7 linked regions of the Homo sapiens genome follow. The protein of the gene in region 1 purifies or fractionates together with the protein of each later gene. This does not show direct contact. Each region holds a gene or a part of one and is shown in the gene's direction. Other genes may lie near its edges.

The links.
Region 2: the proteins of STX5 (region 1) and SRPRB purify together in Homo sapiens (affinity purification with mass spectrometry; 3 studies listed by BioGRID and IntAct, with this or other methods). This does not show direct contact.
Region 3: the proteins of STX5 (region 1) and YKT6 purify together in Homo sapiens (affinity purification with mass spectrometry; 3 studies listed by BioGRID and IntAct, with this or other methods). This does not show direct contact.
Region 4: the proteins of STX5 (region 1) and SNAP29 purify together in Homo sapiens (affinity purification with mass spectrometry; 4 studies listed by BioGRID and IntAct, with this or other methods). This does not show direct contact.
Region 5: the proteins of STX5 (region 1) and VAMP4 purify together in Homo sapiens (affinity purification with mass spectrometry; 3 studies listed by BioGRID and IntAct, with this or other methods). This does not show direct contact.
Region 6: the proteins of STX5 (region 1) and TNPO3 purify together in Homo sapiens (affinity purification with mass spectrometry; 3 studies listed by BioGRID and IntAct, with this or other methods). This does not show direct contact.
Region 7: the proteins of STX5 (region 1) and BET1 purify together in Homo sapiens (affinity purification with mass spectrometry; 3 studies listed by BioGRID and IntAct, with this or other methods). This does not show direct contact.

What each region holds. Positions count from the first base shown.
Region 1 is NC_000011.10:62,825,552-62,829,051, reverse strand, and holds part of STX5 (syntaxin-5), read left to right. Parts: intron 1-1,420; coding exon 1,421-1,491; intron 1,492-1,653; coding exon 1,654-1,709; intron 1,710-1,826; coding exon 1,827-1,897; intron 1,898-3,500. UniProt on the Homo sapiens protein: Mediates endoplasmic reticulum to Golgi transport.
Region 2 is NC_000003.12:133,808,815-133,812,314, forward strand, and holds part of SRPRB (signal recognition particle receptor subunit beta), read left to right. Parts: intron 1-2,302; coding exon 2,303-2,385; intron 2,386-3,500. UniProt on the Homo sapiens protein: Component of the signal recognition particle (SRP) complex receptor (SR). Ensures, in conjunction with the SRP complex, the correct targeting of the nascent secretory proteins to the endoplasmic reticulum membrane system.
Region 3 is NC_000007.14:44,199,731-44,203,777, forward strand, and holds the start of YKT6 (synaptobrevin homolog YKT6), read left to right. Parts: upstream 1-1,247; 5' UTR 1,248-1,405; coding exon 1,406-1,509; intron 1,510-4,047. UniProt on the Homo sapiens protein: Vesicular soluble NSF attachment protein receptor (v-SNARE) mediating vesicle docking and fusion to a specific acceptor cellular compartment. Functions in endoplasmic reticulum to Golgi transport; as part of a SNARE complex composed of GOSR1, GOSR2 and STX5.
Region 4 is NC_000022.11:20,872,507-20,876,006, forward strand, and holds part of SNAP29 (synaptosomal-associated protein 29), read left to right. Parts: intron 1-3,500. UniProt on the Homo sapiens protein: SNAREs, soluble N-ethylmaleimide-sensitive factor-attachment protein receptors, are essential proteins for fusion of cellular membranes.
Region 5 is NC_000001.11:171,721,566-171,725,065, reverse strand, and holds part of VAMP4 (vesicle-associated membrane protein 4), read left to right. Parts: intron 1-3,500. UniProt on the Homo sapiens protein: Involved in the pathway that functions to remove an inhibitor (probably synaptotagmin-4) of calcium-triggered exocytosis during the maturation of secretory granules.
Region 6 is NC_000007.14:129,048,612-129,052,111, reverse strand, and holds part of TNPO3 (transportin-3), read left to right. Parts: intron 1-3,500. UniProt on the Homo sapiens protein: Importin, which transports target proteins into the nucleus. Specifically mediates the nuclear import of splicing factor serine/arginine (SR) proteins, such as RBM4, SFRS1 and SFRS2, by recognizing phosphorylated SR domains.
Region 7 is NC_000007.14:93,994,356-93,997,855, reverse strand, and holds part of BET1 (BET1 homolog), read left to right. Parts: intron 1-1,534; coding exon 1,535-1,591; intron 1,592-3,470; coding exon 3,471-3,500. UniProt on the Homo sapiens protein: Required for vesicular transport from the ER to the Golgi complex. Functions as a SNARE involved in the docking process of ER-derived vesicles with the cis-Golgi membrane.

The sequences.
Region 1 (3,500 bases):
CTCTCTTTGTTGCCAGGCTGGAGTGCAGTGACGTGATCTGGGTTCACTGCAGCCTCCACCTCTGGGTTTAAGTGATTCTCCTGCCTCAGCCTCCCAAGTAGCTGGGAATACAGGCGGTGCCAGGACACCCAGCTAATTTTTGTATTTTTAGTAGAGACGGGGTTTCACTGTGTTCGCCAGGATGGTCTCTGTCTCTTGACCTCGTGATCTGCTTGCCTCGGCCTCCCAAAATGCTGGGATTACAGGTGTGAGCCACTGCACCTGGCCAAGTAACTGTATTTATTTATTTGTTTGTTTGTTTGTTTATTTATTTATTTATTTATTTTGAGACGGAGTCTCGCTCTGTCACCCAGGCTGGAGTGCAGTGGTGGGATCTTGGCTCACGGCAGCCTCCACCTCCCAGGTTCAAGTGATTCTCCGGCCTCAGCCTGCTGAGTAGCTGGGACTACAGGTGCATGCCACCACACCTGGCTAAATTTTTGTATTTTTAGTAGAGATGGGGTTTCACCATGTTAGCCAGGTTGGTCTCAATCTCTTGACCTCGTGATCCGCCTGCCTCAGCTTTCCAAAGTGCTGGGATTACAGGCGTGAGCCACTGCACCCGGCCGAGTAACTGTATTTTTAAATATTTTTACTGATGGCTGGACATGCTGGCTGGCACCTGTAATCCCAGCACTTTGGGAGGCTGAGGTGGGAGGATTGCGTGAGCCTAGGAGTTCAAGACCAGCCTGGGCAATATAGCAAGACCCTATCTCTACAAAAAGTTAAAAATTAGCTAGGTGTGGTGGTGTGCCCTGTAGTCCCAGCTACTTGGGAGGCTGAAGTTGGAGGATCACTTGAGCCCAGGATGTCGAGGCCGCAGTAAGTTATGATCATGCTACTATATTCCAACCTGGGAGACAGAGTGAGACCCTGTCTCAAAAACAGAAAAGTTATAAAGAAGTGTTTTTCAGCTCATGGTAAAGCTGCTCTTCTGTATGATCTCCAAGAGCTTTGCAATCATCCTTATTGATTTCCTGATTTGAGGAATAGAATGGCAATACTAGATACCATTTATTTAGTGCTTACTATGTACCAGGTAGTTGACTGAAGTACTTTTCAGCCTTTTTGTTATTTAACCTTAGCAACAATAGGAGATGTGTGGATTGTCTTCATTTTATAGAAGAGAAAGTAGAGATTTAGAATGTTTTAAGTAACTCGCCCCAAATCCACCAGCTAGTAGTAAGTGGTGAGTCAAGATTTGAACTCAGGTCTACCTGCTCTTCAAATCTGGACTCTAAACGACTACCACTCATAAATCTAGATCATCTGATGGATGCCACCAGCACTAGAGATAGGTTAGTGGACACCTCAGGAAGAGTGAAAGCTGGAACTGGGGAAGGGAGAACTAAAGTTGTCACCTCCTGCCATTGCTTTTCAGAATGGAATCCAGACAAATAAGCCAGCTTTGCGTGCTGTCCGACAACGCAGTGAATTCACCCTCATGGCCAAGTGAGTTGAGAGAAGCTTTCTGGTGGGGTGATACAGTGTCTGAAGAAAAGTAGACTTGCAATCAGTGGCCTTGGCTGTGAAGTCTGGGATTGGTTATGCTGGAGCTTATGTGGGAAAAGGCGTCCTGCCCTTTCCCACAGTCTGACTAGTGGTCATTTGCAGGCGCATTGGGAAAGACCTTAGCAACACATTTGCCAAGCTGGAGAAGCTGACAATCTGTGAGTGTTCTTGGGGTCTTTCAGAAGTGGGGCAGTAAATCAAAGAGGGTTGAGGACTATATTCCCTGAGCTTTGTCCTTGACCTCACCCATTGTGGCTTCTTGTTTGTCTCTGTAGTGGCAAAGCGCAAGTCCCTCTTTGATGATAAAGCAGTGGAAATTGAAGAGCTAACATATATCATCAAACAGGTGAGCTACTAGCCATCAGGAGAGCCCAGCATTCCAATCAGATCACTTCTGTCTTCCTGTCATTTTCCATTGCCATGGGGACCCAGAGCAAGTTTCTTTTTTTAGAGAGGGGGGTCTCACTGTGTTGACCAGTCTGGAGTGTAGTGGTGTGACCTAGCTCACTGCAGCCCTTAACTCCTGGCCTCAAGCTTTCCTCCAGCCTGAGCCTCCTGAGTGGTAGAGACTACAGGGACATGCCCTCATTCCTGGATAATTTTTTTTTTTTTTTTTTTTTTGAGGCAGAGTTTTGCTCTTTCACCCAGGCCGGAGTGCAGTGGTGCGATCTTGGCTCACTGCAACCTCCACCTCCCAGGTGCAAGCGATTCTCCTGCCTCAGCCTCCCCAGTAGCTGGGACTATAGGCACCCGCTACCAATGACTGGCTAATTGTTTTATCTTTAGTAGAGACGGGGTATGCCAGGCTGGTCTCGAACTCCTGACCTCAAGTGAGCCGCCCACCTTGGCCTCCCAAAGTGCTGGGATTACAGGTGTGAGCCACTGCACTCGACTGTAATAATAACTTTTATTTTATTTATTTATTTATTTATTATTATTTTTTGAGACAGAGTTTCACTCTTGTTGCTCAGGCTGGAGCACAGTGGCGCGATCTCAGCTCACTGCAACCTCTGTCTCCTGGGTTCAAGTGACTCCCCTGCCTCAGCCTCCCGAATAGCTGGGATTACAGGCACGTGCCACCGCGCCCGGCTAATTTTGTATTTTTAGTAGAGACAGGGTTTCTCCACGTTGGTCAGGCTGGTCTCAAACTCCTGACCTCAGGTGATCCGCCCACCTCAGCCTCCCAAAGTGATGGGATTACAGGCGTGAGCCACCGCGCCAGGCCAATAATAACTTTTTTTTTTTTTAAGACGGAGTCTCACTCTGTCGCCAGGCTGGAGTGCAGTGGCGCGATCTAGGCTCACTGCAACCTCCACCTCCCAGGTTCAAAACGATTCTTTTGCCTCAGCATCCCAAGTAGCTGGGATTATAGGCGCGCGCCACCACACCCAGCTAATTTTTGGTATTTTTAGTAGAGATGGCATTTCACCATGTTGGCCAGGATGGTCTCAATCTCTTGACCTCATGATCTGCCTGCCTTGGCCTCTCAAAGTGGTGGGTTTACAGACATTAGCCATTGAGGAATTGTGTGTATGAAAATAGTTCTGTTGATGCCTCTCGAAACTACAGTGCCTTTGACTCTTCCCTTTTCCTGAGTACTGTCCGGGGGCTTTGTTGGTCATGCCCTAGACCCGAGATTTTGGCCTTTGAAAGGGTTCTGTGGCCAAGAGCATGGCCTCACAGAATGGAGCAGGGCAGTAGGCTGGAGGAGTAAACAAGTTATTTACAATGGATGAAGGCCTATTTTGCCTCTTTGTAGCTCTTCTCTGCAGGGACTGAGCCAGAGCAAACACTAGACCTTGGAAAATCCTAGCAGGCCCATCTGGTCTGACTGTCTGAGATACTCTCACTCTGGCTAGTAACTTCCACCTTGTCCTTCCTACCAGAGATGGCCATCGTGAGAGATGCTGACTAAGGACTCCTTGGCTAATACTTTGTTTTTCCTTGGA
Region 2 (3,500 bases), on another chromosome or scaffold:
GGGAGGTGGAGGTGGCAGTGAGCCAAGATTGCGCCACTGCACTCCAGCCTGGGCAATAGAGCGAGACTAAGTCTCAAAAAAAAAAAAAAAATATAAGGAATCATGGGAAAGACATTTTACATACCTCTGTAACTTCAGAATGTAGACAGTGACTACCAAACCGATTGTAATGCATAAGTTTGTTTGTTTGTTTTTGAGACAGGAGTCTCACTCTGTTGCCCAGGCTGGAGTGCAGTGGCATGATCTTGGCTCACTGCAACCTCTGCCTCCCGAGTTGAAGCGATTCTCCTGCCTCAGCCTCCTGAGTAGCTGGGATTACAGGCGCCCACCACCATGCCTGGCTAATTTTTGTATTTTTAGTAGAGATGGGGTTTCACCATGTTGGCCAGGCTGGTCTTGAACTCCTGACCTCAAGTGATCCGCCCACCTCAGCTTCCCAAATTGCTGGGATTACAGGCGTGAGCCACTGCACCCAGCCATGTAATAAGTTTCGGTGAGTGAGTGGAGTGAGGGCTCGTTGGAGGATGTGGATGGATAGATGGATGAATTAGAATTGTGGTTTGAGACCTTTTCTTCTTCTCTTTGTCTTCTTTCCCCTTTCTCATGCCTCCAGAATTAAAGATTGTAAAGAAAAATAAAGGGACATGTTTTTAAATATCTTAGCGATATCTTTGTTTTTTTTTTCAATGATGACACTCTTTGTGGCCCAGACCTTTTTAAACTCCCAAGGATTCAGATTTTGAAATTCCAGGTTTGCAAGATCATCTAGTACCTGCACTAGATTTTTAACTTAGGATACTCCAGGATATGCTTTAAATCTGTACCTTCTAATATGTAGCCACTGGCCACATGTGACTGTTGAGCACCTAAACTAGGACTAGTCCAAATTGAGGCATGCTGTAAGTGTGAAGTACACACCAGATCTTGAAGACTTAGTATGGAAAAAAAGAACGTAAAGTATCATTAATAATTTCTTTTTTTATTACATTTTAAAAGATAATATTTTGGATATATTAGATTAAATAACTTAAAATTAATTTTACCAATTTCTTTTTACTTTTTTATTATGGTTACTGGAATATTTAAAATTACATATGTGGCTTCTGTTATTCTATATTTCTACTATATTTCTATTCTATCAATATTTCTACTGAATATATAGAGCATTTTTCCCTTCCCTCTTCACTCTTTCTCCTACCCCCTTACGTTTTCGATCTAATCTCTTTAGATAGTAATATACCTAGTAATGTATCTTCCAAATTGCTTAGGGTGTGTGGTATAGTGCTGCTTTTGAAATGGAGCAGTTAAGTCCCAACCTGGGATCTCCAGACTCTTAACAGTACTTAAAAAAAAAAGAGAGGGACTAATAAAAAACATATTTGTCTATAAAGAAATGCACAGGCTATGTGAAAGGTAAGGTCATAATAAACCCAGCTGGAATTGTGTTAAATCTGTGCAGGATACTGATTGCCTGCTTCTGAACTGTGGGTATGGTTGGCTGTGGATAATGTAGAACATGTAAGAAATGATGGTCTGCTGCATGTACCAGGCCACATCTAAGAGTCTTATTGTTGAGCACAGCCACGTTTACACTGAATATAAACTTTATTCACCATTCCAGGCCTTGACCTTATATTCAGGAATGGCAGCCTGGCATGGTGAATAGAACTTATTAGGGTGCATCGTAGATTTGCTCAGTAGGGGCTCAGGAATTGACACAAATGCTGACGGAGTTGGAACAAGTAAATTATATGTCTGGAAGATAAATATTTAAATAATTAGATTAAGGGTGGAAATGATAAAAGTGTACTTTGTTATAAAGATTGGAGATCCCAGTAAGAGTAATATGCTCTATGAAAAATTGTAAGTTCTTATATTACATTATTAGTTTATGAGTACTTGTTACTGTTTTCACATTTTTGCTTATACTCATACAGTACTCCTACTTTGCTATACTCACACTGGTTTATCTCCCAAGCCTCAGGTAGATCATGCTTCCCTGACTCCCCCAGACAGGTTTTTCCTGTACCCTCAAAACATTTATCAGTGTTCTCATTTTATATTTATGTGTAATTTTACATTATGTTCACCTTTCTCATAAATTTTGCCAGATCAGGAACCGTGTCTTTGGCCACTGTTACATCCCCAGAACGTTGACTAGTGTTTTATGAGTAGAAGATGCTTTGTGAACATTTGTTTGGTTAATTAGGTACCAGTTTGGTAGCCAATATATGATACTAAAGGTTTATATTGTGAACGTGGAACTGTATTGAAACGTTAATGTTATTGCTGCCATCCCCAGGGCAATAGTCTGACCTTGATTGACCTTCCCGGCCATGAGAGTTTGAGGCTTCAGTTCTTAGAGCGGTTTAAGTCTTCAGCCAGGTAAGAAGGAAAGAAGTGAAGTGGGCTTGTCTAGGTCTGTATCTGTATATCAAAGCCACTCATGTGATTTGCTCTGGTGGTGTTTGGGAGGCAGCATGGTATCCTGTGGTAGACCTTGAGGTGACCTTGGGGTCAGCCAGTTCTGGGTTGCAAGTCCACCTTCACCTGGATGATGAGGATTTTATGGGATTAAAATGCTTAAAAAGTGTTTTTTAGTGTTTAGGAAATGTTAACCCTTCTTGTCATTGTTACTAAATGTTTGCATTTATTCTGAAGGTGAATTTAATAATGTATATGACTATTAAAATCTGAAAAAAGAATTTTAAAGCTGGGATGAATCCTAGCAGTTTTTAAATGCCAACATCATTTATATATATAGTGTTTTTTTGTTTTTTTTTTTTGAGATGGAGTCTCACTCTGTTGTCCTGGCTGGAGTGCAGTGGTGTGATCTCGGCTCACTGCAACCTCCACCTCCTGGGTTCAAGTGATTCTCCTGCCTCAGCCTCCTGAGTAGCTGGGATTACAGGCACGCACCACCACACCCTGCTAATTTTTCATAATTTTAGTAGAGATGGGGTTTCACCATGTTGGCCAGGCTTGTCTCGAACTCCTGACCTCATGATCCGCTGGCCTCAGCCTCCCAAAGTGCTGGAATTACAGGCGTGAGCCACTGCACCTGGCCCATATATATTCTCAAATTACGTAAAATTGATGTTTCAAGAAGTACAGAACAATATTTCCATATTTCTTTTAGTGTGTGCTCTGGTGTTACTGACTCTTAAGTTCTTCCCTAAAAAGTCTTATGCTGCAGTTTCAGATGCTTCTTTTTTGGTCTCTAACATTAATAAGAACTGAAGAGGAAAATCAGTATGCCACATTTCACTGATTTGAAGACACATTTTAATATCTCTGAATTTAGAATATATCTTATAGTTGATGGTGTCATAGTTTAATTGGCAGTATTTTCTCTTAGCGGTCCCTAAAATAATGTCTTTAATTGGCAGCATTTTAGTTTTGATGGAATGAAGTAGTAGATTCTTTGCCTTTTATTGAAGATGTCTAGACTGAAATTTCATTATTGCATCTTTGCCCACAAGATGGTGGTGATGAACAAT
Region 3 (4,047 bases), on another chromosome or scaffold:
TTGAATACCCTTTATTTCCTTCTCCTACCTGATTGCCCTGGCCAGAACTTCCAACACTATGTTGAAAAGGAGTGGTGAGAGAGGGCATCCCAGTCTTGTGCCAGTTTTCAAAGGGAATGCTTCCAGTTTTTGTCCATTCAGTATGATATTGGCTGTGGGTTTGTCATAGATAGCTCTTATTATTTTGAGATACGTCCCATCAATACCTAATTTATTGAGAGTTTTTAGCATGAGGGTTGTTGAATTTTGTCAAAGGCCTTTTCTGCATCTATTGAGATAATCATGTGGTTTTTGTCTTTGGTTCTGTTTATATGCTGGATTACGTTTACTGATTTTCGTATGTTGAACCAGCCTTGCATCCCAGGGATGAAGCCCACTTGATCATGGTGGATAAGCTTTTTGATGTGTTGCTGGATTCGGTTTGCCAGTATTTTACTGAGGATTTTTGCTTCAATGTTCATCAAGGATATTGGTCTAAAATTCTTTTTTTGTTGTGTCTCTCTCTGCCACCCTTTGGTATCAGGATGATGCTGGCCTCATAAAATGAGTTAGGGAGGATTCTCTCTTTTTCTTTTGATTGGAATAGTTTCAGAAGGAATGGTACAAGCTCCTCCTAAAATGTGGCACATATACACCATGGAATACTATGCAGCCATAAAAAATGATGAGTTCATGTCCTTTGTAGGGACATGGATGAAGCTGGAAACCATCATTCTCAGCAAACTATTGCAAGGACAAAAAACCAAACACCGCATGTTCTCACTCATAGGTGGGAATTGAACAATAAGAACACATGGACACAGGAAGGCGAACATCACACACCGGGGACTGTTGTGGGGTGGGGGGAGGGGGGAGGGATAGCATTAGGAGATATACTTAATGCTAAATGACGAGTTAATGGGTGCAGCACACCAACATGGCACATGTATACATATGTAACAAACCTGCACGTTGTGCACATGTACCCTAAAACTTAAAGTATAATAATAAAAAAAATGCTTACTTTAAAAAAAGAAAGAAAAGAAAAAAAAAAAAAAGAAGGGTTCAGGCCGCTGTGGGAGGCCCAGCACCACCCAGCACAAGACAGTACGGTATCCCGCCGCGCGCCCGACTCCACCTGGCGAGCAGGGAGGGGCCAAGCTTACGCGAGGCGTGGCATCCCGCCCCTCGCTGCATTGTACTTCCGGGCTCACATTTCTGCATCCGGAGTATGAGAACCCTCAACCAGGCTGACCGGATCCGGAAGTGGATTGCGAGCCAGGAGGAGGAAGCCGGCGGTGGCCCCGTCAGCAGCCGGCTGCTGAGAGGCCGGTAGGCGGCGGCGGTCCCGAGGGGCGGCGGCCGCGCTGCTCCCTGAGAACGGGTCCCGCAGCTGGGCAGGCGGGCGGCCTGAGGGCGCGGAGCCATGAAGCTGTACAGCCTCAGCGTCCTCTACAAAGGCGAGGCCAAGGTGGTGCTGCTCAAAGCCGCATACGATGTGTCTTCCTTCAGCTTTTTCCAGAGATCCAGGTGAGCGGCACAGGCTGGTGGGCCGTGGCGGTCGGGCGGAGAGGACTGGGGTGGGGGTCCGAGTCGGAGTGGGCCTGGGGTCGGCGGAGGGATGAGGGGAGGGTGGAGGAGGCCAAGGGTAGGGGCAGGGCGGGGTGGCCGAGTGCCCGGGGTCTGAGAAGGCTGGTGTCCGAGTCAGAGGCGGGGCGGGGTGGGGAGGGCCCGGGGTCTGCTGTCCGGGCTTGGTCTCCTATAATGGAATCTGGCCGTGGACTCTACCTTTGAGGAACCAACATTAGCTCTTTAAGAGCTTATACCATTCTAGAATATAGTTCTCTACTCAGTGTTTTTCAAATTTCTGTCGTGTAAAAATTTTAAGGAGACTGTGAAGTAGTGCAGATTTCCAAGCTTCATGCCAAGATGTTCTGAATTAGTAGATTGAGGCCTCGGTATTTATATTTTAGACCAACACTTCCCACCCAGTGATTCTGACTCTGGGAGCTTGGGTGCCGCATCTTGAGAGCCATATTTTGATTTTCTTGCGGGGCTTCCCAACAATTCTGTATGAGAGATAGTGATATACTTTTTTTTGTTTGTTTTTAATGGGTGAAGTCACTGAGGTACCAAGAGGTTATATCACAACCAGCTAGAACTGAAAGCCAGGTTTAACGCTTTTTAGTTGGACACTAGTGGTACAAAAGGATTCCACACGGAAGATGCAAATGAAGCATGGGATCTGTAGGGCTTACAGGCTTTTACTTGTTTCTGGGGCGCTTTAATTGCTGGAACGTGTTAGAAGTAACACAGACACTTCCAGACCATTCGTGGGAGGGATTGGGGTGACTCAGGCACGAAAGAAGGAGGACCCTACATGGTCGGTATCTATGGTCATCTTGTCTCAAAATCTGATGGAATCTGCCGTTTGGATTCTGTTTTCCCTGCTTCAGTGCAGCTGGTTCTTGATGAGAGTTCTTTGCCAAGGACTTGCTGGATGTAAAAAAAAAAAAATGTTATTTTGTTGAAACTTTCTGCTTCTTTGAGTTCTTTTAAAAAAATATTTTTAATTGTGGTAAAATGGTACACAAAATTTATCTTCACTATCTTTAAGCGTGTAGTGAGTGCATTGATATGAAATAGATTGATAGTGTTGTGCAGCCATCACTGTCAATCGTCTCCAGAACTCCTTTTTATCAAATTCGTGTCTATTAAACACATTCCCTTCTCCCCCAGCCCATGGCAACTGCCATTCTAATTTGTCTCTGTGATTTTGACTTTTCTGGCGACCTTAGATAAATGGAATCATATAGTTTTTGTGTGTCTGGCTTATTTCATGTAGCATAATGTCCTCAAGGCTCATGCATCTTGTTGCATATATCAGAATTTCTTTCCTTTTTAAGGCTGAATAATCCATTGTATTATTCACCACATTTTGCTTATCTGTTCATCTGTCAGTGGACACCTGGGTTGCTTCCACATTTCAGCCATTGTGAATGATACTGCTATGAACATGGATGTACAAATATCTCTTCAAGACCCTGCTCGCATTTTTTTGGTATTTACCCAGAAGCGGAATTGCTGCATTATCTTTTAGCTCCTTCTTGGGGTTCTTGGTCTTTGCAGTCTTTACCATGGCCTACATTCACTGCTCTGTGTTGTTGCTTTTCTCAGATGGAACTTTTGGTGCCAACTTGGCTCTGATTCTTTTTCCTTTTTCCTTCCCATTAGTACTTAAGATTCTCAGAGATTTCACTTGTAGGACTTATACCTCACCTGCTTGGGATGCCCACACTAGTTTCCAATGACTAACAGCTGCAACACTAAAGGGACATCTCTACTAATATGTCTTAAAACAACACATGTCCCAGCTGATTTATTTATTTATTTATTTTATTTTAGATGGAGTCTTGCTCTGTCACCCAGGCTGGAGTGCAGTGGCACAGTGTCAGCTCACTGCAACCTCCGCCTCCTGGGTTCAAGTGATTCTCCTGCCTCAGCCTCCCAAGTAGCTGGGATTACAGGCGCGCACCACCACACCCGGCTAATTTTTGTATTTTTAGTAGAGATGGGGTTTTACCATGTTAGCCAGGCTGGTCTCGAACTCCTGAGCTCAAGTGATCCGCCTGCCTTGGCCTCCCAAAGTGCTAGGATTACAGGCTTGAGCCACCACGTCCGGCCTGAGCTTGTTTTCTTATAAGACCGCTTTACTTACGTCCTTTGTGCCCTATAATTACCCGATTCCAAAGTTGAAAAAGTAGTTTCCCAGCTTTTTTGGTCTTTGTATACATGCTGTCACAATGCAGTTCTTCCTTTGTCTCTTTATAGCCGTGTCTCAAATGCTGTCTCTAGGTTTACTGCAAAGCCTTCCTTGTTTGAGGTCTTCTTTTCTGAGGGGTTATTTTGATCACTTCAGTCCCTCAAGATATTAACAAGTAATACTGTGTGTGCAGGCATTGTTCCAAGTGCTTTACACGTATTACCTCGTTTAACTGTTGCACAAATCTTGATTTTTTTAATGTGGAGGCACAGCACACAGGCCCAGAGTCAGGCCTTCAGTTACCT
Region 4 (3,500 bases), on another chromosome or scaffold:
TCTCCTGCCTCAGCCTCCCGAGTAGCTGGGACTACAGGCGCCTGCCACCATGCCTGGCTAATTTTTTGTATTTTTAGTAGAGACGGGGTTTCACCGTGTTAGCCAGGATGGTCTCGACCTCCTGACTTCGTGATCCATCCGCCTCCGCCTTCCAAAGTGCTGGGATTACAGGCGTGAGCCACCACATCCGGCCTAATTTTTGTATTTTTAGTAGAGATGGGGTTTCACCATGTTGGCCAGTCTGGTCTCAAACTCCTGACCTCAGGTGATCCACCTGCCTCAGCCTCCTAGAGTGCCGAGCCACCACGCCAGGCTTTTTTTTTTTTTTTTTTTTTTTTTTTGAGACAGAGTCTCACTCTGTTGCCCAGGCTGGAGTGCAGTGGCACCATCTCAGCTCACTGAAACCTCTGTCTCCCAGGTTCAAGCAATTCTCTTGCCTCAGCCTCCTGAGTAGCTGGGATTACAGGCATGTGTCACCATGCCTGGTTAATTTTTGTATTTTTAGGAGAGATGGGGTTTCTCCATGTTGGCCAGGATAGTCTCGAACTCTTGATCTCAGATGATCCGCCCGCCTCAGCCTTCCAAAGTGCTAGGATTATGGGCGTGAGCCACCACACCTGGCCTCTCTCTTTGTTTTAATTCTGTAATGTGGAGCTTTTCTTTTTCATTTTATTTATTTATTTTTTAAGAGATGAGGTCTTGCTGTGTTGGCCAGGTTGGTCTTGAACTCCTGGCCTCAAGCAGTCCTCCCACCTCGGCCTCCCAAAGTGCTAGGATTACAGGCATGAGCCACCACACCTAACTGCAGAGCCGTTTTTTTTAATGCATCACTAAGGTACAGTAAAATATGTGCATCTTAAGTGGAGAGCCAGTGACTGTGAACCTGTGTACACTAGTGTGGCCACCACCCAGATCAAGATGTAGGGTGTGGCAGGGAGGAAATTAGATAACTACTTCAAACTCAGAGTGGGGCTGGGGAGAAACCAGTGTAGGTAACAAAGCTGGTGGTGATGGCAGAAAGAACAGGCAGGCGAAGCCATCAAGAGTTATGGAGAGGTTCAGGCATGGTGGCTCATGCCTGTAATCCCAGCAATTTGGGAGACTGAGGCAGGAGGATCACTTGATCCCAGCCTGAGCAACATGACAAAACCCCGTCTCTACAGAAAAACACAAAAATGAAGTTGGGCATGGTGGTTCAGGCCTGTAATCCCAGCACTTTGGGAGGCCGAGGCGGGTGCATCGTTTGAGGTCAGGAGTGTGAGACCAGGCCAGCCAACATGGTGAAACCCAGTGTCTCCTAAAAATACAAAAATCAGCCAGGCATGGTGGTGCCTGCCTGTAGCCCCAGCTACTTGGGAGGCTGAGGAGGAGAATCCCTTAAGCCTGGGAGGCAGAGGTTGTAGTGAGCGGAGATTGCACCACTGCACCTCAGCCTGGGTAACAGTGAGACTCTGTCTCAAAAAAAAAAAAAAAAAAAAAAAAAAAAAGGCCGGGCATGGTGAGTCACGCCTGTAATCCCAGCACTTTGGGAGGCCAAGGCCAACGGAGCACGAGGTCAGGAGATTGAGACCATCCTGGCTAACACGGTGAAACCCCGTCTCTACTAAAAATACAAAATATTATCCGGGTGTGGTGGCGGGCGCCTGTGGTCCCAGCTACTCGGGAGGGTGAGAAATGTGTATGGCGTGAACCCAGGAGGCGGAGCTTACAGTGAGCTGAGATCACGCCACTGCAACAGTGAGCTGAGATCACGCCACTGCACTCCAGCCTGGGCGACAGAGCAAGACTCTGACACACACAGACACACACAGACACACACACACACACACACACGAAAATTAGCCACACACACACACACACACACACACACACACACACACACACACACACGAAAATTAGCCGGACATGGTGGTACGTGCTTGTGGTCCCAGCTACTGAGGTGGCTGAGGTGGACCCGACCTTTTGGCTTAGGTGGGAGGATCACCTGAACCCAGGGAGGTTGAGCCTACAATGAGCTATGATTGTACCAGTCTACTCCAGCCTGGGTGACAGAGTGAGACCCTATCTCAAAAAAAAAAAAAAAAAAAGTACTGCAGGAGGGACCTGCAGAGTTGGCCCTGGGAACCTGCCGGCCTCAGTGAGTGCCCTGGGGAGGCACTAGCTAAGGTTATGAGGGTTGGTTGGTTTTTTTGGCTCAGCCATAATCACCATTCTGGGTTCTCCAGCTCAACCCTAATTTTAAACATCCGCCATTTCCCTCCAGTTCTAGTCGTTGCTTGTTTTTTGTTGTTTTTTTTTCAATATACATATCAGAAAGATGTTTTATATCCTAATCTTTGGCCACATTTAATTGCCATAGGAGAAGGTAGGATGTTCATTTGTTTTGGTCTAAGACATCCTCCATGTACAAACTCAGGAGCAGAGTGAGCCCTTGGAGGAGTGGGAAGCTGGCAAGTTTGTGACTAGCACCCTTTCACACCCTTCCACATCCTACATACCTCTTCACAAAGGCTGCTTCTGGGGCTCTTGGAGGCCCCTGCATCCCTGAACATAGCTATGAAAGCCATGGAAGTCCTGTGGCTCCAGGGGCAGTTTTCTTTTTTTGGAGCATCATGAAAACTCAGGGGCTTCCCAGCAAAGGCTTCCATCAGTGAGGCAGCCATAGTTATTTCAGTGAGGTGGGCTTTGTCTCTTGGGAAGTCCTGTTTGTCCTTGCTGACAGCTTTCCAAGCTGCTTGTTCTCATTTCCACTTAAAGCTGATGCGTTCCCGTCAAGGTCCCCAAAGTCATGTACCCTGCCTGGCCTGCCCCTAGATTAGCCCCAATCAGTTGTAGCATTCTTGCCATCTCTTAGTAAATTCAAGAAAGCAAAACTTTCACCCACACTCTGCAGTTCTGTGGGAGCAGAAGCTGCAGGAATGCAGTCTGTCTGTTGGAAGATATGGGGGAGGCAGACAGTCCACAGGGATGCAGTGGGGACCCAGAGGAGAGGGAGGTTGGCCCTGGGAACAGAGGAAGGCTGCACAAAGGACCTGACTTTTTGCAGAAGGTGAAGGTTTTGAGGGAACCCACCAATTGAAGGAGGGGTTGGTGCAGGCACATGGCAGTAAAAGCACAGGGGAAGCCGGGATGAAGGAAGTTGTTGGCCATTTCAAGGGCCCAGCAGGGCCAGACACAGTGGCTCATGCCTGTTATCCCAACATTTTATAAGGCCAAGGCAGGACAATCACTTGGGGCCAGGAGTTGAAGATCAGCCTGGGCAACATAGCAAGATTCTGTCTCTACAAACATAAAAAATTTTTAAAGCTGGGCATGGTGATACAGGCCTGTAGTCATATTTACATGGACGACCAAAAAAAAAAATGGGGGGGCGGCTGGGTGCAGTGGCTCACGCCTGTAATCCCAGCACTTTTGGGAGGCTAAGGTGGGCGGATCACGAGGTCAGGAGATCGAGACCATCCTAGCTAACACGGTGAAACCCCGTCTCTACTAAAAATACA
Region 5 (3,500 bases), on another chromosome or scaffold:
AGAGTTTCAGTTTTGAAAGATGAAAAAGTTCTAGAGATGAATGGTGATGACAGTTCATTAAGTGAATTACTTAATGCCACAGAACTGTATGCTTAAAAACGGTTAAAATAGTAAATATATGTTATATATATTTACCACAATAAAAATTTATTGACTATATATGTGTGGCTCTATTTCTGGACTCTATGTGTCTTTCTTACATCAATACCATAGTAATCACTATCCTGAGTACTACGACTTTATAGTAAGTTGTGAGGTAGTGTAGTGTATATCCTTCAACTTTGCACTGCCTTTTGAAAGTTCTTTTGGCTATTGGAGGCTCTAAGCATTTTCATATAAATTTTAGAATCATCTTGTCAGTTTCCAGCAAGCCTGCTAGAATTTTGGTTGAGATTATATTGAACCTATAGATGAATTTGGGGATAATTAACATCTTAACAATATTTGGTTTTCTGACCCATGAGCATAGTATATCTTTTTATTTATTTGGGTACTTAATTTCTCTCAGCAGTGTTTTGTAGTTTTCAGTGTCCAGATGTTGTATTTTTTTCTTTGTCAAATTGATCCTTAAGTATTTTCTTTTATTTTTTATTATTATACTTTAAGTTCTAGGGTACATGTGCACAGTGTGCAGGTTTGTTACATATGTATGCATGTGCCATGTTGGTGTGCTGCACCAGTTAACTCATCATTTACATTAGATATATCTCCTAATGCTATCCCTCCTCCCTCCCCCCACCCCATGACAGGACCCGGTGTGTGATGTTCCCCACCCTGTGTCCAAGTGTTCTCATTGTTCAGTTCCCACCTATGAGTGAGAACATGCGGTGTTTGGTTGTCTGTCTTTGCGATAGTTTGCTCAGAATGATGGTTTCCAGCTTCATCCATGTCCCTACAAAGGACATGAACTCATCCTTTTTTATGGCTGCGTAGTATTCCATGGTGTATATGTGCCACATTTTCTTAATCCAGTCTGTCACTGATGGACATTTGGGTTGGTTCCAAGTCTTTGCTATTGTGAATAGTGCCACAATAAACATATGTGTGCATGTGTCTTTATAGCAGCATGATTTATAATCCGTTGTGGGAAGTCAGCGACCCCGAATGGAGGGACTGGCTGAAGCCATGGCAGAAGAGCATAAATTGTGAAGATTTCATGGACATTTATTGGTTCCCCAATTTAATACTTTTATAATTTCTTACACCTGTCTTTATTGCAATCTCTGAACATAAATTGTGAAGATTTCATGGACATTTATCACTTCCCCAGTCAATACTCTTGTGATTTCCTGTGCCTGTCTTTACTTTAATCTCTTAATCCCGTCATCTTCGTAAGCTGAGGATGTATGTCGCCTCAGGACCCTGTGATGATTGCATTAACTGCACAAATTGTTTGTAAAGCATGTGTGTTTAAACAATATGAAATCTGGTCACCTTGAAAAAAGAACAGGATAACAGCGATGTTCAGGGAACAAGGGAGATAACCATTAGGTCTGACTGCCTGAAAGCTGGGCAGAACAGAGCCATATTTCTCTTCTTACAAAAGCAAATAGGAGAAATATCACTGAATTCTTTTTCTCAGCAAGGAACAGTCCTGAGAAAGAGAATGCATTCCTAGGGGAGGTTTCTAAAATGGCTGCTCTGGGAATGTGTGTCTTATATGTTGCAGATAAGGGATGAAATAAGCCCTGGTCTCCCAGGCCTATTAGAACGAGGAAATTCCTGCCCAGTAAATTTTAGTCAGACCAGTTGTCTGCTCTCAAACCCTGTCTCCTGATAAGATGTTATCAATGACAGTGCGTGCCCGAAACTTCATTAGCAATTTTAATTTTGCCCCAGTCGTGTGATCTTGCTCTGCCCCCATTTGCCTTGTGATATTTTATTGCCTTGTGAAGCATGTGATCTCTATAATCCACACCCTATTAGTACACTCCCTCCCCTTTGAAAATCACAACAAAATCTTGCTGGTTTTGCGGCGTAGGGGGGCATCACAGAACCTGCCGACACGTGATGTCTCCCCCAGACACACAGTTTTAAAATTTCTCTCTTTTGTAGTCTTTCCCTTTATTACTCAGACCAGCCGACACTTAGGGAAAATAGAAAAGGTCCTATGTTGAATTATCGGGGGTGGTTCCCTTGATATAATCCTTTGGGTATATGCCCAGTAATGGGATGGCTGGGTCAAATGGTATTTCTAGTTCTAGATCCCTGAGGAATCGCACACTGACTTCCACAATGGTTGAACTAGTTTACACTCCCATCAACAGTGTAAAAGCGTTCCTGTTTCTCCACATCCTCTCCAGCACCTGTTGTTTCCTGACTTTTTAATGATCGCCATTCTAACTGGTGTGAGATGGTATCTTATTGTGGTTTTGATTTGCATTTCTCTGATGGTCAGTGATGATGAGCATTTTTTCATGTGTCTGTTGGCTGCATAAATGTCTTCTTTTGAGAAGTGTCTGTTCATATCCTTCGCCCACTTTTTGATGGGGTTGTTTGATTTTTTCTTGTAAATTTCTTTACGTTCTTTGTAGATTCTGGATACTAGCCCTTTGTCAGATGGGTAGATTGTAAAAATTTTCTCCCATTCTGTAGGTTGCCTGTTCACTCTGATGGTAGTTTCTTTTGCTGTGCAGAAGCTCTTTAGTTTAATGAGATCCCATTTGTCAATTTTGGCTTTTGTTGACATTGCTTTTGGTGTTTTATTCATGAAATCCTTGCCCATGCCTATGTCCTGAATGATATTGCCTAGGTTTTCTTCTAGGGTTTTTATGGTTTTAGGTTTAACATTTAAGTCTTTAATCCATCTTGAATTAATTTTTGTATAAGGTGTAAGGAAGGGATCCAGTTTCAGCTTTCTACATATGGCTAGCCAGTTTTCCCAGCACCATTTATTAAATAGGGATTCCTTTCCCTATTTCTTGTTTTTGTCAGGTTTGTCAAAGATCAGATGGTTGTAGATGTCTGGTATTATTTCTGAGGGCACTATTCTGTTCCATTGGTCTATATCTCTGTTTTGGTACCAGTACCATGCTGTTTTGGTTACTGTAGCCTTGTAGTATAGTTTGAAGTCAGGTAGCGTGACGCCTCCAACTTTGTTCTTTTGGCTTAGGATTGTCTTGGCAATGTGGGCTCTTTTTTGGTTCCATATGAACTTTAAAGTAGTTTTTTCCAATTCTGTGAAGAAAGTCATTGGTAGCTTGATGGGGATGGCACTGAATCTATAAATTACCTTGGGCAGTATGGCCATTTTCACAATATTGATTCTTCCTATCCATGAGCATGGAATGTTCTTCCATTTGTTTGTGTCCTCTTTTATTTCGTTGAGCAGTGGTTTGTAGTTCTCCTTGAAGAGGTCCTTCACATCCATTGTAAGTTGGATGCCTAGGTATTTTATTCTCTTTGAAGCAATTGTGAATGGGAGTTCACTCATGATTTGGCTTTCTGTTTGTCTGTTATTGGTGTATAGGAATGCTTGTGATTTTTGCACATTGATTTTC
Region 6 (3,500 bases), on another chromosome or scaffold:
GGAAAATATCCAGCAGTAACACATCACGTTTAGGCAACTTCAGCATCTGGATTGACAGTTCAGCTAACACTTTGGCCTTCTGATTCCTTTACCTCTTCATTCTCTTTAGCCACCTGGTCACACAATCACACCCTGGATCTTGTCTTTACTAAAAAGCCACCACCCAGGCTGGGCGTGCAGTGGCTCACGCCTGTAATCCCAACACTTTGGGAGGCTGAGGCGGGCGGATCGCTTGAGGTCAGGGGTTTGAGACCAGCCTGGCCAACATGGTGAAAACCCGTTTCTACTAAAAATACAAAAATTAGCTGGGCGTGGTGGTGCGCACCTGTAGTCTCTGCTACTCAGGAGGCTGAGGCAGGAGAATCTCTTGAACCCAGGAGGTGGAGGTTGCAGTGAGCTGATATTGTGTCACTGCACTCCAGCCTGGGCGACAGAGCGCGACTCCATTTCAAAAAAAACAAAAAAGTTGCCAGCCAGGCCAGGCCCATTGGCTCTTGCCTGTAATCCCAGCACTTTGGGAGTCCAAGGTGGAGGATCCCTTGAGCCCAGGAGTTCAAGACCAGCCTGGGCAACATAGCGAGACCTCATTTCTACAAAAAAATAGGAAAATTAGTTGGGTGTGGTGACATTTGCCTATAGTCCCAGCTACTCAGGAGGATCCCTTGAGCCCAGGAGTTCAAGACTGAGTGAGCTATGATTTCGCTACTGCACTCTAGCCTGGGAAACAGCAAGATTGTACAAAAAAAAAAAAAAAGTCACCACACCTCCAAATCACTGATTCAGACATTCTGCTGTGATCATAACCCACTGTTTTCCAGTTTGCTGGCTCAAAAATATCAAATAATGTCACCTAGTTTTTTTTGAAATCTTTATGTAGTTTTACTAATATTTAAGTTTTATTTTTAAAACAAAATTTTGTGGAACCTTTTTTTTCCTGTTGGTAATCAAATACCTCTTTTTTTTTTTAACATTTTGTTTTCTGGGTATCCACAATAAGTCACCCTCAAATCTCAGTACTGTAAATATCCTCATTGTTCAGACTGGTGATTTGTTTTCTTTTTTGGCTAAAGGAAATATGTATCCCAAGAGCCCTCCATTTCCCTGCTCCAGTCTGGCCTGGTTCGCTAGGTCTGTTGGATAATTACTGTCATGGGATTCCATAAACACTGTCCTAGGGAATTCCCTTTGCCTCTTTGTTGTGCTGGATCCACTGATTCTTGGATTCCATGATGTTTTCTTGGGTTACTCTTCCATTTAATGGATCATCGAGAAGGGAACCTTCATCCTTTCTCTCATTGCTTTTCTGTTGGTCTGTTTTTCTTGGGCTGCTTTTACCTTGAGTTCTCTAGTCAGCCTGGGGGTTATAAGCTAGACTGCCAGTGTTCTAAAGCCAGTTCAGGGAATGAAGCCAGGGGATGGATCTCACAACTAAGTATGTAGGTTTTAATTTAATCTCTTGTTTTTCAGCATGATACTCCTGTCTTTAGCTGAGTCTGTTGTCTAAGAGTCCAGAGACCACCTACTTCAATCTTTCCACAGTAAACCTTGAGTCTTCTGTTATGGTGGGAGAGTAGTAGCCTGGTTGCTCAGAGTCAGAGAGGAAATTTAGGAGTCTACTGCTTCTTACACAGATTTTGACCCTTTTATTTATTTAAACTTTTTTCTTTTTTTGTTTTAAGGCTGCATTACTAGCCGATTCCCCCCCCACCCTTTTTTTTTTTTTTTTTTTTGAGACAGAGTCTCGCTGTCTCCCAGGCTGGAGTGCAGTGGCGCCATCTCAGCTCACTGCAAGCTCCGCCTCCCGGGTTCACGCCATTCTCCTGCCTCAGCCTCCAGAGTAGCTGGGACTACAGGTGCTTGCCACCATGCCCAGCTAATTTTTTGTATTTTTTAGTAGAGACAAGGTTTCACCATGTTAGCCAGGATGGTCTCGGTCTCCTGACCTTGTGATCTGCCCACCTTGGCCTCCCAAAGTGCTGGGATTACAGGCATGAGTGACTGCGCCCAGCCCACCCCACCTCACCCTTTTTAAAAAAAGAAAAAAAAGAAAAGAAAAGTTGGGGTCTCGCTATATTGCCCAGGTTGGACCCGAACTCTTGGTCTCAGGCAATCCTCTCTCCTCAGTCTCCTGAGTAGCTGAAATTACAGGTGCACACCACCACATCCAGCTCCACTCCTTTATTTTTTGTTCCGCCTGTGCATCTGCCTTCAGATGTACCTGTGCTTCCAATTCCCCAGTCTTCCTGGGTTTTGCAACATGAATAGTTTGTCCCTTGCCTTCCCTATTCTCGTCTCATCCTCCCTCCCCACCCCCAGGCAAATATCAGCCTTTTCGGATCTGCTAAGACAGTTAACACTGTCCTTTAGCTTTCCAGTTTCCACAGTTCTATTGATATCTGTCACCTGTTTCCATTTTCTTTGTCTTTATGTGTTTTTGCCTTTTTTAAAAAAGATCTTTACTCTGATTTTTATTGGATTTTTGGAAGGACCTGAAAGCAGACAGCTGTGTTCAATCAGTTAGTTTAGTCATTTTAAACAGAAGTCCCTGCATTAGTTCTTGAATTTTATCAAAACCTCAGTTCATTGACTGTTCCTTACTTCTTCTTTATTAGGTCTTCTTGTTTTTACTTCTCTCCTTACCAAATGTGGATTCCAAGATCTATCATTCTAGTCATTTTATAAATACACCATCACCTTTCCCCTCCAATTTGGTCAGACTTCAGCATGGTTGTATGCAGCTGCTTCTCCTCTTGTCAGATCTAGGTGCTTTGCATCTCTCAATCTTCTGAAATTTCTGGGACCTTGATCTTTTGGTTTATCCTATGTCTTGTCTGCATCTTTAGACTCCTTTACTGAGTCTTTCCCATCAGCATCCAAATAGCTGAAATATTTCTCATAGTACACAAATATTTTGGGGTAGAGTGGATGCCGCCTTTGCCCAACTTTACTTTCTTCTCTGCTTTTACCCTTTCCCAACCCTTTCTTCAAATGCAGAAACTAACTCATCTTTTGAAAGCCCAACCTAAATTCTGCTTTCTCCTTCAAGGCTTACCTGCTTCTCTTCAGCCAAAAGTGATTTCAGCCCCCAATGAATGCCTAGAGAACTTTACTTCATTGTGTTTGCCTTTTTATAAACCTTTTTGAAAATAAGTGTTTTGCCTCCCCTACTAGACTGGGATTCTTGTCACATTTGTTTATGTAGTCCAATACCCATAGTTGAAGAAATAAACCATGGTTATTAAGATAAACAATCAAGACACTTCACACACAGGTTCTTAAAAATGTTGATTGTCAGAAGTGCATACATGCAGATACTCAGTTGGATAACTCACATTTTTCTTTATCTGCGAGTTTTATTTATTTTTGCTGTCACTTTTCACCATATACATGGTTAAAAATAAACAATATTCAGCACCTTTAATGCTCTTCAGTCTTTCCAGTCTTTTTTTTTCTTTCTTTTTTTTTTTTAAATCCTTTATGAGATGTATATGTTGCCCTCA
Region 7 (3,500 bases), on another chromosome or scaffold:
ACCAGAATGCAGGTTTTCTATTGTACTTACTTTATATTCTATATAGCACTTAGCATAATTCCTTATCAATGGTGTTGAGTAAATTTGTATTGAACCAAAGAATTACACGAAGATGATTTTAATAATATATGTGATTGATACTGCATTATAATGAACATGACGTTCACTTATAAAGCATTCAGTAGAAGCCCATGTTGATAAAACTTAATTGGTATTTCAATATAGTCTTTGGAAAATCGAATTACATTCAGTCTGGAGACCTTTAGATTTTGAAACAGGATTGTTTTCAAAGTCATATTAAACTAAAGTTGATTTATGAACTAAGTAATATTGTATAATGTTAATTTTAAAAATACAACACTTGGAAGGACTTAAGAATTAAATGCCTTTAAAAACCCCCCCAATGTAGATAATTTAGATTACTTGTTAGAAGAAAGTTGTGATGTCCTGGAAATATTTTTCCTTGGCATGAATGACAGTGATAGAAGTTGAGTAATGTGGGCAGTCTAGCTTTATAGTTACTTTATTATCTCTGAGTTGTTAAATCTGGGAGGAAAGCTCATGTTCTGATCTATAGAATTCTAGTATGGTTTTGTATCAGTATTATCCCATGTGCTTTCACACAGATGAAGAACAATATTTGCAGTGATTTACCAAGATTTTCAGTAGATGATTCTATTTATTTAAATATCTTGGAAGTGAAGCCTTTGATGAATCTGTCCTATAAAGTATTAGATAGATTTTGGTTTGAATAGTTGTCATAATTAGCTATAGTATTGTATTTTGTAAGCTATGGCTCTTTTCTTCAGAGCTTCAGGAAGTAAGTAACACTAATATTTATTTTTTTCAATTTATTATCATATTTTAAAGCAAAAACCTTTAAACTAAGGAAAAATCAGTTTAGACATATTTAAAGTAATGTAACATTTCATTAGGAAAATATTAAATACTTCTGTCTAGATTTGAATTGGTTGTATGGGTACTTCTAGATCTTTCAAAATGTAATAAGGTTGGGTACTAGGCTTAATTCTTGGTTGACGAAATAATCCGTACAACAAATCCATGTGACATGAGTTTAACTGTATAACAAACCTTCACCTGTACCCCCAAACCTAAAATAAGTTAAAATATATATATATAATTTATAAAATATAATAAATAAAATGTAAGAAGGAAATATACAGATATTTGTAGGAATTTGTAGCTTTTGTAGGAATATAATAAAGATATAAAAGCATACAAGGTTAAGAGAATCAGAGAGAAGTAGTACATACCAAATTAAAAGATGGAATTGAATATTAAGATGAAATTAAAATAAAGAGGAAAGAAGAAATGTCCATAATTGGGAGGAGTAGAAATTCCAAATTTATTTTTTATTGATCTTGGTAGAAAAAGTATCAGAAAAAGAGAGTTTATGTGTCTAGAAGACCGTTTCATTTCAGAAAATGTGTATGCTTAGAATGACATTATTTTTACTTTATAACACTTGAATACTTTTATGTGAGTAATCCTGTGTATACCTTCTTCTTTATAGCTTTCCATTGAAATAGGCCATGAAGTTAAAACCCAGAATAAATTATTAGCTGAAATGGTAAGTGGTTATGATTTTAACTTTAAGAAATTTGATCTAATATTCGCAAATAATAGAATTTCAACTTTTATTCATTTTGAAATACAGAGATCGTAAGTCCTTGATTCCCGTCCATTTGTATCTAATGTGTTTGGAATAACTATAAGGTTTATTTTGCCATGCTTTTGCATTTTTCATCTCGTCTTACGCATGTAAGTGGGAGGAACAAGTGGAAGCCAATATATCTTTAATCCTGTTTTTAGAATGATTGTTAAAAACAAGACAAATGACTATTTTGAGTAGTCTTAGAAGTCTCAATAGTAGAGACTACTAGTAATTTATTAACCAAGCAATCAAAAGGCACTTGATATCCAACCAACTAAATGTCGTTCACTTAATGGATACTTACTCTTTTGCTTGATTTCCTAAGGATCACTTATGAAAAAAGTGCTCATACATTTGAACAGCCCAGAGCCTTTTCTCTCTAACAACATATACCTTTTCTTGTTAGAGTCCCCTTCCATTTGTTAACGTTTATCTTGAATGTCAAGCTTCTCTGAACCTTCTCTGGTTCCATGTGCTTTTAAAATTGTGCTATTCAAAAATGAATTTGGCATCAAAAGCAATGTTCTTGCTAAGCTTGTGCGCTATAATAAGCTAGGGACCTCTTTAAAAATGTATATGCCTGATTCTGTCTTTAAATATACTGATTTAGAATTTCGTGAGGAGGGATCTAGATGTAAATATTTTGAAAAAAGCATCTCTGGTGATTCTGATGCATAACCATGAAAAAGCATCTCCGGTGATTCTGATGCATAACCATGGTGAAGATCCATAGATCTAAAGTATATGAGCCACATAGACACTGAGCTATACAAAGGATATTTATTATTATGCCAGGGCTTTTACATCTCAGGATATTATAATTTCTATGAAAGTATGTGTAATATTTCTAGTCCCTACCTAAGCCTCTCTCATCTTTAGGATTTTCCAGCTATGTTTTAATACGTTAGTTTTTCCCCATCCATATTTATAGTCCTTATCACATTTTACTACCTCTATATGATATTCTCTTAACTTAATAGACTCTACTTCAAAGTCAGCTGTCTAAACAAAAGGATATTAAAAGTAAAGGTCCAAGGCCTAGCATGGTAGCTCACGCCTATACTCCCAACATTTTGGGAGGATGAGGTGGGCGGATTACCTGAGGTCAGTAGTTCAAGACCACCCTGGCCAACATGGTGAAACCCCATCTCTACTAAAAATACAAAAAAATTAGCTGGGCGTGGTGGCGTGCGCCTGTAGTCCCAGCTACTTGGGAGGCTGAGGCAGGAGAATCACTTGAACCTGGGAGGCAGAGATTGCAGTGAGCTGAGATTGCACCACTGCACTCCAGCCTGGGCAACGAGCGAGACTCCGTCTCTAAATAAATAAATAAGTAAATAAAAGTACATTTAACTGCTAACCGTATTACATTTTGGATGAAATCCTCTACTTGGGTAGCAGTCAACCATTTGACCTTGGAGAGCAATGGCACAACAAAAAGTGGGGAAAAAAATCTGTGTGATAATGCACAAAGTACTTACATTTATTGTTAATTTTTTTTATCCACATAATTGGAATAACACCTAAATAGTTTTGAGTTGTTGAATTACTCTGTGGAGCTGAAAGAAGTGTTTATTGGACAATGAAAGAGCTTTTTATTCGCTGAGAGTATTACTGTATTTTGCATGGAGAAATCAGGCTGATTATCCAAGGTTATCAACAGGCTCCTGAATTGATTAAACACAAAACTGTCATTACAAATGTACTATGGTAACAGTTATTCAATTACTTGGATATGCATATGTAGACTCTTAGAATCTAACTGTGATATTTTATTTGCCTTTATCTCTGATAGGATTCACAATTTGATTCCACAACTGGATTT